Linked DNA regions of Homo sapiens: region 2 is linked to region 1. The links come from fine-mapping of genetic effects on gene expression. Tissue or cell type: prefrontal cortex. Region 1 holds a variant in brackets; the other region holds the start of a gene. All regions are shown on one strand. Distances are from middle to middle.

Region 1 (5,288 bases):
TGTAATTCTCTGCCAAGCTCACCTATTTTGAACCTGTAAGAGAGCCACTAAGAAGAAGTAGAATCAATGAGGCTGGAATGATAATTTTACAGAATGAGATTCCTTCCCTTGCACCTGCCCTCTGCTGGATACATGAAAGTGTAAATTGGGTAAATGGTGAGTGAGAAGAGGAGAAGGTAGATAATTGAGAAGCCTGACAAACATCTTACAATTTAACTGTCCTTGGATAACCACAAATCCTCCCACATCAGATTGACAATGTAAAATTGGTTAGCCAATATTTGCCTAGATAGAACAAATGAATTACAGACCAGTACTTCTCAGATCTTCATGTGCCAAAGAATCATCTTATGATCCTGTCAAATGACCATTTGGAGTCAGTAGATCTGAGGTTGTGCCTTGCCAGTATGCTCCCAGGCAATGCTAATGTAGCTGGTCTGGGATTGCACTTGGAAAGCAAGACTACAGACAATCCCAGATTCCCAACTGGGCTTTCATTTCCTCTGGAAAATGTTTAGGTTCCATATAATGACATTCTTTTCTTTCCAAACCTCCACATAAACACCCATGCTCTTTCTCACCCCAAACACATTCACGTGTATTTTTAACAATCGAGCAGTTTTTAAAAAGACCATTCCAAAGCCATCAGGAGATTTTACCTCATTCGTTATCTGGTTGCTGAATTTCGCATGAAGGAGGTTGGGAGTGTCTGTCACAGCTGTGTACTTGAATGAGTGGGGATGCTGCCGATATTTACTCTGAATTCACACACAAGAAGGGAAGAAGACGACTCCGTAAGGGATAAAAACCAGAAGCAGAACCAGTTCTTTAAGTATTAGCCATAAAGCCTCGTTTTGCAAAGGCTGCAAGTCTATCACTCCAGAATCCAGATTGTCACCTGCCTTTGTGACCCCAAAACTCACTGGGATGAGGAAGCAGAGAGGAGGATAGGATGGACTGAATCAGAACCTTCTAAATGGAAAAGGGAGATTTAGTCCTTTGCCATGAATGTGAACATGACTATTTAAATTTGTGGTTTGTTCCAGATCTTTGCTGGACAGAGAACCAGTGCTCCTCTACCTTGATGGCATATCACAAACTGCAGCTTTAAAAAAACAGACATGCCAGGCATAGTGGCTCATGCCTGTAATCCCAGCACTTTAGGAGGCCAAGGCGGTGGGATCCCCTAAGGTCAGGAGTTCGAGACCATCCAGGCCAACATGGCGAAACCCTGTCTCTACTAAAAAATACAAAAATTAGCTGAGCATGGTGGTGCACATCTGTAATTCCAGCTACTTGGGAGGCTGAGGCAGGAGAATCGCTTGAACCTGGGAGGCGGAGGTTGCAGTGGGCTGAGATCGCACCATTGCACTCCAGCCTGGGTGATAGAGTGAGACTGTCTCAAATAAATAAATAAATAAACTAAAATAAAAATAAATAAAACTTTAAAATAGGTGTGCCTACACCCCACCCTGAGAGACTGGGATTCAGTAAATTAGTCAGTGGGGCCCAGGCCTCTGCATTTCTTAAGGTTTTTTAAGGTTCTGATGCACCATGAGGTACAGAGACCACTTGCTTTAGAGATTTCTCTGGAAAAGCAAAGCATGAGGTTAAATCTAAACTCCCCTAGCAGGCAAAACATAAGCTTATCTGAGCACTCAGGCTGACTGCTGAACACCTATTACTTCCAGTACCTTCCATTATCCCCTCTTGTCCCTGCATCTACCATGAATTAAAGTCCTGTCACCCTCCCAGGGGTGAGCAAGATTCCCCAGGAAATCAGAAAGCTTAGAATTCTAAGACTTCTTTATTTTTACCAAGAAATTATCACCATTTCAAGCTTATAGTAACCATTTCATATACAGCTGCCAGAAAAGCACAGTGCTTAGATTAGTGCTAATCCTCACAAAAATTAAAAGAGAGGGGTCTGAGTATACCCATTTGACTAATTAAGAAGTGGAGGCTCAGAGAGGTGTAGGTCACTGGCTTGAGGTCACACAGCAAATCAGTGCTGGCCTGGAATGTCAATCTCTCTCTGTTGGTCTTCAAAGGCTGCTTTGTTTGCATTGTACCACAGGGCCACTCTTCAAAGGGACACAGAGAGAATATCGCATGGGCCAGTGAATAATCCTTATATGTTAATAGAGGAACTGACTCCATATCCTCAAAGCTGTCTTAAATGGCATGCAGTCTGAATGGAGAATCCAGTAAGAAAAAAAAAAAAAAAAGTCCAGCCCAGGGGGTTACGGAGTGAGTCACTGCTGCTAAGAGTTTAACATCCAACTGGCTTTAGTGGTAAGAAACAAACTGATTGGCTGGGCGCAGTGGCTCACGCCTGTAATCCCAAAACTTTGGGAGGCCACAACAGGTGGATCACTTGAGGTCAGGAGTTCGAGACCAGCCTGGCCAACATGGTGAAACCCCATCTCTACTAAAAATATAAAAATTAGCCAGGCATGGTGGCACTCACCTGTAATCTCAGCTACCTAGGAGGCTGAGGCAGGAGAATCGCTTGAACCCAGGAGACGGAGGTTGCAGTGAGCAGAGATCGTGCCACTCTACTCCAGCCTGGGTGACAGAGCGAGACTCCATCTCAAATTAAAAAAAAAAAAAAAAAAAGGAAGAAAGAAAAAGGAAAGAAACAAACTGATTATCCTCTGCTGTGGAAATGTCCTGGACACTCAACACCAGCATCTGTAGTTACCTCACTGATGAGTTCCGATGCTTTCTTCCTCCCTTCAATCTCTAACGTGCCTGGAA[T/C]GACACATGCAACACCTCGCATAAAGTTCAGGTCTGACCGGTACAAATTCTAGAAGAAATAATAAATACAAAGAATCAGAAAAGCCAAGCTCTCAGAACAGGGAAGCAAAGCAAAACCAGAGGTCTCATGACACAGCATCTGACAGCGTCATAATTAGAACTCAAGGCTGAACCCGTCCCTCCGGATATATTAAACTCAGCCAACGCACAAACACTTCTTGGTAAATGCTCACTAGGGGGGAAGCAATGTAGGTCAGAAGAAAATAATTCTGCTGTCACTTGTCTCAGAGTAGCTGTTCCACAGAAGCGAGACAGATTTTTATTTTAATGTGGGCTATCAAAAAATAAACACTGAAGCGGATTGTGGTTAGAAAGTCAGTTGTCTTGGGGCAAATGTGGAAATGGTCTAACAGGTCTTCTAAAACAAAACTCAGCAGCAGCGGGTGGCATTAATTAATCATGGGTTAAGAAAGAACTAATAAATAAATCCAAAAGAATCTGGCAAAGGCCTGCCTGAGTTCGTGTGGGTGGGGGCCAGTCTGTGTACCTGAATGATTCGGGCTGACAGTTTAAAGAGTTCCCACATTCACTCCCCTTCAGCCAGTGAGGCGCCCCCTGGGCGTCCTGCCTTCCAATCGCTATCACAACCAGAGGCAGGGCAAGTGAGGGCTCCGCTCAAGTGACAAACGGGCCCCCGAGATGAGCGTGGCAGCTCCCTCGTTCCTACAGCTGCTCTCAGGTTCCTGACAGTTTATGTCATTCAGTAAACGCTGTACACAGGCGTAAAATCCAAACAGACGACAGACACCCAGATCTGAGTGCCGCTCAGATCGCAGGCACTGCCAAACCAGGAAAGAGGTTTTGTGCGGAGTTTTCTTTTCCTAAGCGGGCCCATTACCTGCAAATCTCATAGCATGGAAACCTAGCAAGCTGGGAAATAAGGTGAGTAGTGAACAGGATGTGGATGCCTGTTGGGAAGAACACTCTGGCTCTCCTTGGGAGTGAGGAAGTCTCCAATGCTTCCTGACCCTCCTGGGCCTGTCTGCTTCAGAAATCGGGATCACGAGTGAGAAATGCATGTCAGAGGAGTACAAAGACTCCTCAAAGGGACCCAAGGAGGGTCTCCAGGGCCCTGATTTCCCTCTCCACTCCCTGAAGTGCGTCAGTCCTGACAGGTTCTGAGCAGCCTCTCCCAACAGATCTTAGCCCTCCTCAGAAGGCGGGTGGCACAGGAACGCATGAAGCACCAAGAGGAATCCTTCCTGAGACTTGAGGCCAGAGGCAATATCATTGGCAAATCTTAAACATGCACAACCATGAACCTTGAGGGCATCTTTGTCATTCAAACCTCAAGTTCAAATCCCAGCCCTCTCTTTCTAACTATAGCTGTGTGATCTTGGACAAGATATTTAACTTCTCTGCATTTCACTGTAATTTCTCTGTAAAATGAGAATAAACTAATGATATGGGCTGATTGTGAGATAATGCATAAAACAATGCTTAGAGTGCAGCAAAAAATAATAAATTGTGGTTATGATTAGATTTGTGTAACTGTGCTTAAGGGATGTGCAGGAACTCTCAGACTGGGTTTCAAAATAAGACTTGGGTTTAGGATTTCTCACTTCCAGAGATTTCACTGAGCCAACAGGAGCCTGGAGGTCACCACCCTGAGGTCCTAAGAGAAGAAGGGGCCCTGAGAAAGAGGCCAGGTCTCCTTACCTCACTCTGCAATTTGTGAGCTTTCTTGGCACAGCTCAGCCTCAGGTCTTCTGCCAAGGAAGTGTACTGGGGCAGTGGATGTTTGTAGTCCTGATTGCTGGCCAGGGTCTGAGCCTTCTTGGCATGCACCAGGGCGGCCATGTCCAACGGCAGATGGAACTGCGCCTTTGAGTGTTCAAAGCCTTTCTTGTAATTCACCTAGAGGGGCAGACAGAGCAACAGCAGCTATTTCAAAGCCACTATTTGCAACAGGACCATCAGGGAGGGCAACTGCAATGCAGTTGTCTGGAGGTAAGCCCAGGGGAAGTTCTTGGCAGGGCCAGTGCTCCTTTCTTGCAGAGACTGGCCTAATAACCAGGGCTTGTCTCTAGGCCCTGACACTTACCACCCCCAGCTCCTGGAGGTCATTGATCTGGATGAAGAAGGCCCATGGTTCCCTCATTTGAGGAACATACAAAAGTCCAAGGAACAGTAAATAATGTCAGTGATTCCCTTGCTCAAATCTTTAGATCTTTCTATTTTTCAGAGGCAAGAAGATGCATCGCTCCCTGCCCACCATATTTTTTCCCATCGCCCACTCAAGTTCAGACACGAGGGATTCTCCTCTCACACTAGCTTAGGAAGAGTTTCTTCAAAGCATTCAATGATTTTCCTAGCCAACGTGGGAGCCAGGAGCAGTGGGGAGGATGCTTGGAGAGTCAAGCCTCAGGGATAGGCATTCCCCAAAACCCAAAACACACCCTGGGAGAGGGAGGGGAAGACCCATTCCAGACCATAGATTCGACTATAGTCCTTGGAGGAGCTGTGTT
Region 2 (5,288 bases), 54 kb after region 1:
CTGTCATCATTTTATGAAACAGTCTTGAGCTGGTCAAGACACAAAGATTATACTGAAATCAAGGACCTCAATTATTCAATCTAGATTATCCTGTATATTGGCTCCTAATATTGTGGGAGAACAAACAGTCATATTTGTTACTCAAATGCACTTTACATGTGTATGTGGAGGAAATGGGCAGGTTCACATGCAGACAGAGACACTTAAAAACTTAACATGTGCCTAGCATTGTTAATCGGTATATAATATTTGCACATATTTATGGAGTACATATAATATTTTGTTACATATTAGAATGTGTAATGATCAAGTCAGGGCATTTAGGGTGTTTATCGGCTCGAGTATTTATCATTTCTATTCTAGCTATTTTGAAATATATGATACATTGTTGTTAATTGTGGTCATCCTACTCTGTCTGCTATAGGACATTACAACATGTTCCTTCTTTTATTTATTTAACTTTTTAAGAAATAAAGACAGGGTCTCACTATGTTGCCCAGGCTAGTCTCTAACTCCCAAGCTCAAACCATCTGCCCGCTTTGGCCTCCCAAAGTGTTGGAATTGTAGGTGTGAGCCACTGTGCCTGGCTAGAATATATTCCTTTTATCTATTTGCATGTTTCTACCCAGTAACCAATCATTCTCCATACCCTCCATCCCACTGAAAATTAAATAACTTACCCCACTGATGGCCTCTGGAAATGTCCTCACATTTAGATTTAATGGAGTGTGATAGACACTGGTGAAAGTGTTGTTCTTAGGGTTATGGCTACAACAAATAGGTATAAATCAAAATTAGAAATGTACTTTATCCAAATGATTGAGGGACTATTCTTAAAATTATTTTTAAATAATAACAGTTATTTTTAAAAAATCAATAAATGTAAAACTTAAAAATTAAGTTCGTGATTTTCCAGGCAATGCATCTTACAGAAAAAAAAGCAAATCAAATAAAATCGACATATATAACTGAAAGCCTAAATTTAACTGGAAATGATCACTTGAAAACTTTCTGAAGAAAGTAAAAAAGGATTCTGAAATTATTTAAAAGAAAATACTTCAAAGCTCTATATGCATATTTATGGCCATTACATTGTTCTGCACAGTATTTAATAATTTGACATGAGGTTATAGTGGATATATTTGATCTTTTACTTGGAAGAAATTTGAAGTTTTGTGTCCATTGCATAAAATCCCACCTTAGGTCTCTTTAATGACAGGATACAAGGGAACACTTTGGGAGAAGATATTTCTTGGATTTAACCCTGGGTTATATGATTTGAACGTTTAGTTGGCTCCTTGTTGAAAAACAAATAAAACTCAAGAGGTAGTGGTGGGGGCATCAAACACTTACGCGTGACAGTACGGCTTTTTCTGGTGACTCACAAAGTTATTAACAGACAGCATCATCTTGCAAACTTCACAGTGAAAACAGGCTTTATGCCATATCTAGAAATCATATAGAGAAGATTTAGCAATTACCCTTTTCCCCCCAGACTCAAGGTTCTTATATATTTTAGGGTAAAAAAATGAACTTCGAGGATAAAATGCTGATTTTAAAAAAATTAAAATCCACACACACAGCTATAACAACACTCACGGTTAAATAAATGGATAACTTTTTTTTTTTGAGACAACACAGAAGAAATAGAAATGTGTAGAACTAAATAAAGGTGAGAAAATATAACTTTTTCTTGTGGTTCAAAACAATTTAACTGAAAATTAAATTTCCATATTTACCTATGTCCATATGTGAGAAGGTCAATTTCCTGTGTTTGTTATTATTCACAAAAGCCAAGAAATGTCTACTGACCTGATCTATACAGCTGATCTTCTCGGCAGGATAAACCCCATACCCACACCTAGAACAGGGCTGCACATTCATCTCGAAGCCGGAAGAGAGAGGACAAAGATAGGCAACAGGCAAGAAATGCAAGGAGAACCCCCAGTCTAGTTCAAGTCTTCAAAATCCGACGACCATAAAATTCCTGTGGGCACCTCGATCTTTCAGAATCCAACTTCCACTTTCCTTTGCTGACCTTCTAGTTTGAAGTCAGCAGTTGGATGGTTTTTAAAGCTGCCACTTACTCAAGGGGCTATTTTGGCCACTCACTCAGCACGCATGTGTCTGGGAAATAAGGTGGAAGTATTTCTAGCTGACATGCTTCTCTAAATAGAAAAATGAACTCACAACAGCATCATGTTTATGTGGATAACCAAACCCTGGTGTATGATCAGGCAGCATGGAGTGGTTTAGCACTAGCTGTGATCATGACCCAAGAAAAGAACCTAAAGGAAGATGCCACACCGTCATCCAACAATCAAATTAGAAAAGCTTGCTCTATGCGTCCTATGACTAAAGCAGAAAGGCCAGCTCCCAAAAATATAGAAAATAAAATAGGATTGATTCACTCCTTTAAATGGATAAATATCACACTTGAATTTTAACTTTACCTACCCAAAGCGTTTACAACAGTTAAACTAAAAACTTAATAAGGTGTTAGTTTGTGTTTAGCTTCTACTGGAACGCAAAACTAAAAACTAATGAGAACTCTTGGTGTTTTGGCCTCTGTATTTTATTCTAGAATGTTCCAAGAAGGCCTTTGTGCTTGTTCCCTTGCCTCACAGGCCTTAAAAGAGGTGATATGAAGACAGAATCTCTCTTCCTGGCTTTGGGAAGCCTCTCATTGCCTTCAGTCTCTGCTGAAATGTCACCTTATCACCTTATAGAAATACCTGATACAAAATGGCACCTCACCTGTCCCCACTCCTATCTCATTATCTTCCATTACTCTTAGCCTGCTTGATGGTCTTCATAGTGGTAATCACAGCTGGACATATTACATGTTAATGTTTCTATTTTTAAAAATTGTGTCTCTCCCATCAAAATATGAGTTCTGTCTAAACAGGATCTTTGGTCCTTTTTGCCACTTCTATATCCCCCATGCCTAGAACAAGGTCTGCCAATAAAAGGTGCTTAATAAAGATTTATTGGATTAATGAAATAAATTTAATACTCACACCAAAATGCCTATAGAGGCCAGGTATGAAGTCTAGATAATGGTAGGAACTTTTCCAAATAGATGAGCACTCATCCCATCTGAAGCAGGCAACTGCTCCTCAGTCCCAGCCAACTGTCATCATGAAACAATCAACATTCCAGGTTGCCAAATATCCTGATTTTTCCGGAATATTTTCCAAATATTCTGAGCACACCAGAAGTCTGCATTTACAAATGAAATTCCCCTTTTTGTATATAAAACAATATAACAGAGTCGTGGGCAGTATTTGGCCAGCAGGTTACCAATTTGTGACCTTGGCCCTAAATGTTCTGAGGTTAGGTTGGTGTCCCCAGGTAGGGTGGAGTAAGATGAGTAGTATTTTGGGGTTGTGCTGAGATAGCCAGGGGGTAGGAAGAAGCTCTAAAGCCAATGAAGAAGAGTAGCATTCAAGTCCACATGAGTATAAGGGGAAGGCGGAGTCTCAGGTTTTCCCACATGGGGCTAGGGCTCTCTCAGCATGGGGAGGGGACTCAAAGCAGGGACTCCAGGCTCAGCAAAGACTCCCACACTGAAACGTGATTGGGCAGGAGGGCTGCCACCAGCCTGCAAATGAGAACAGCAATGGGCACAGCACAAAGACCTGCAGGGTTCCCCGGTTGTTTTGCTCTGCACCAGGCTTCTCAAGCCTTACTTAGTGGGTGGGGTGGAAGCTCCAATAATCACTGAAATGAACTGTACCCCAGTCCGGAGGGCTGAGGAATCAGGAGGATTTCACTTAAAAAAGAAGCTTGCAACGTTCCTTCTCTGCCTAAGCTTGTGATTGCAATCTGTAGCCGTTAAAACGGGTTGGTCACATTTGTGAACACAAGAATTACAAAATGCAAGATGCTAAACTGGATTTGTACCATCACTTCTGATTTATTAGACATCAGAAATTGCTAGGAGAAACAACCCCATAGAACTAGAAATGGGATAGTTTAAGGAACTAGAAGTAAACACTCATTTCTGGGGCAAGACAAACACAGACTTCACTGTGTAGTCGAGTCTTGGTTGGTTCACACCACCCTTCTCATGTTATATACAGCCCCTCCTGCTCCTTGGCCTAAGCCCCTCCCACTTGACGCAGGGATTACAGCAGGCCGTCCAAGCCAAGTCAGTGAGCATACCACATTCCTTTGGCCTTAGGAGTTGGTTCAGATAACATCAGTCTTAGCCTGGGTTCTCCAGAAAACAGAACCTGTGTCAAAGGCTTATATGCAAGGACTTTATTCCAAAGTATAATCCAGGGAGCAAGAGTTAGAAGGCAGGAAATGCAGGGCAGGGAACAGTTGGTATTAGGGTTGTTCTCAACGGGGCCACCAGCTGGTATAAAGTGTATTGAATGGCTTGACCATCTTCCAAGGGGCCATATAAACAACCGCTACTCAGGAACATCTACCAGAGGAAGGAAGGGTCCTGTCTCCCATTGGTGAAAGGTTTGCCCCATTGGCCATTAATGTCCATGCTGTGTATGTACACAGGGAGTCCCATGGCATCTCGCACCTCAGTATCAACAGGAAAACACCAAGGGCAGCAGAAGGCCAAAGACACTGTCAGTTGTGCCCACGTGAAGATGGCCAGAGCCCTCATAGAGACAGTGGCCACTACCGAGGCTGAGCCTGCTCAAGTAGGCAAAGGCCCTACGGAAGGTGAGGCTGAGTGAATCTAAAGCAGCCCTTCCAGGTGTCTGATGCACTGGGCTCTCAGCAGAGTCCTGGACCTGGGCTTGGTGGTGGTGAGCTGGAGCCTGATCTTGCAGAGCCTTGTGGAGCCTTGATCTGGGAACTTCGGCCCACACCACCCCACATTGCTCTGGCTTTTTTTAAGTCTTGACTCATAGGGAGCTTTTTGTTTCACATTAATGACTTTTATGTTCAGTATGTGGGCAAGTAGTTTCCTTTTGAAAGTTAAATGTAGTCCTCCTTATTTACCTCTTTTCAATTTCATCCTGTTGATGGTGGTCGCCTTGCTTTAGGCGGTTGAGGTCTTTTTGGACTTGGATTGAGTCATCCAGGATATGAGGTAATCCTTTCTAACTCTGCACCATTTCCAGGGCCCTCCAGGGCTGTGCATATGGACTGGTTTTGAAACTACAGAAAAATGATAAGAGATGTGAAATCAAGGGACAGCTGCTGACCCTTCATTCTGTCACTGTCACTCAGATTAGACGGAAGGTGTTCCTCCCATGCTGGGGGTTTGTTCCTGTTTTAATTTAGGTTGCCCCCCTCAGCAAGGCACAGGGAAGTTA

Direction of the effects. Alleles are on the strand shown, and positions count from the first base shown. SD is a standard deviation of normalised expression in the study named.
For the expression in prefrontal cortex of the gene that starts at base 2,043 in region 2, allele T in region 1 goes with a lower level than allele C (small effect, 0.38 SD a copy in ROSMAP).

What was found. PIP is the estimated chance that this variant, and not a neighbour inherited with it, causes the effect. A credible set is the group of variants that fine-mapping cannot tell apart.
Region 2: NRAP starts here. The variant in region 1 is the best candidate, but not a certain one, in a credible set for the expression of NRAP in prefrontal cortex (ROSMAP, PIP 0.53).

Annotation. Positions count from the first base shown.
Region 1 is chr10:113,607,755-113,613,042 of GRCh38, forward strand. NRAP (nebulin related anchoring protein) reads right to left here. Exons shown (of 42, transcript NM_198060.4): 30 at 4,480-4,677; 31 at 2,705-2,809; 32 at 660-758. Among named protein-coding and RNA genes, the nearest start is that of NRAP, 54 kb to the right of the region's middle. RefSeq lists a silencer at 3,256-3,550. The variant T/C (reference allele first, on the strand shown) is at 2,761.
Region 2 is chr10:113,661,999-113,667,286 of GRCh38, forward strand. NRAP (nebulin related anchoring protein) reads right to left here and starts at 2,043. Exons shown (of 42, transcript NM_198060.4): 1 at 1,813-2,043; 2 at 1,354-1,448; 3 at 681-768. The coding sequence starts at 1,884.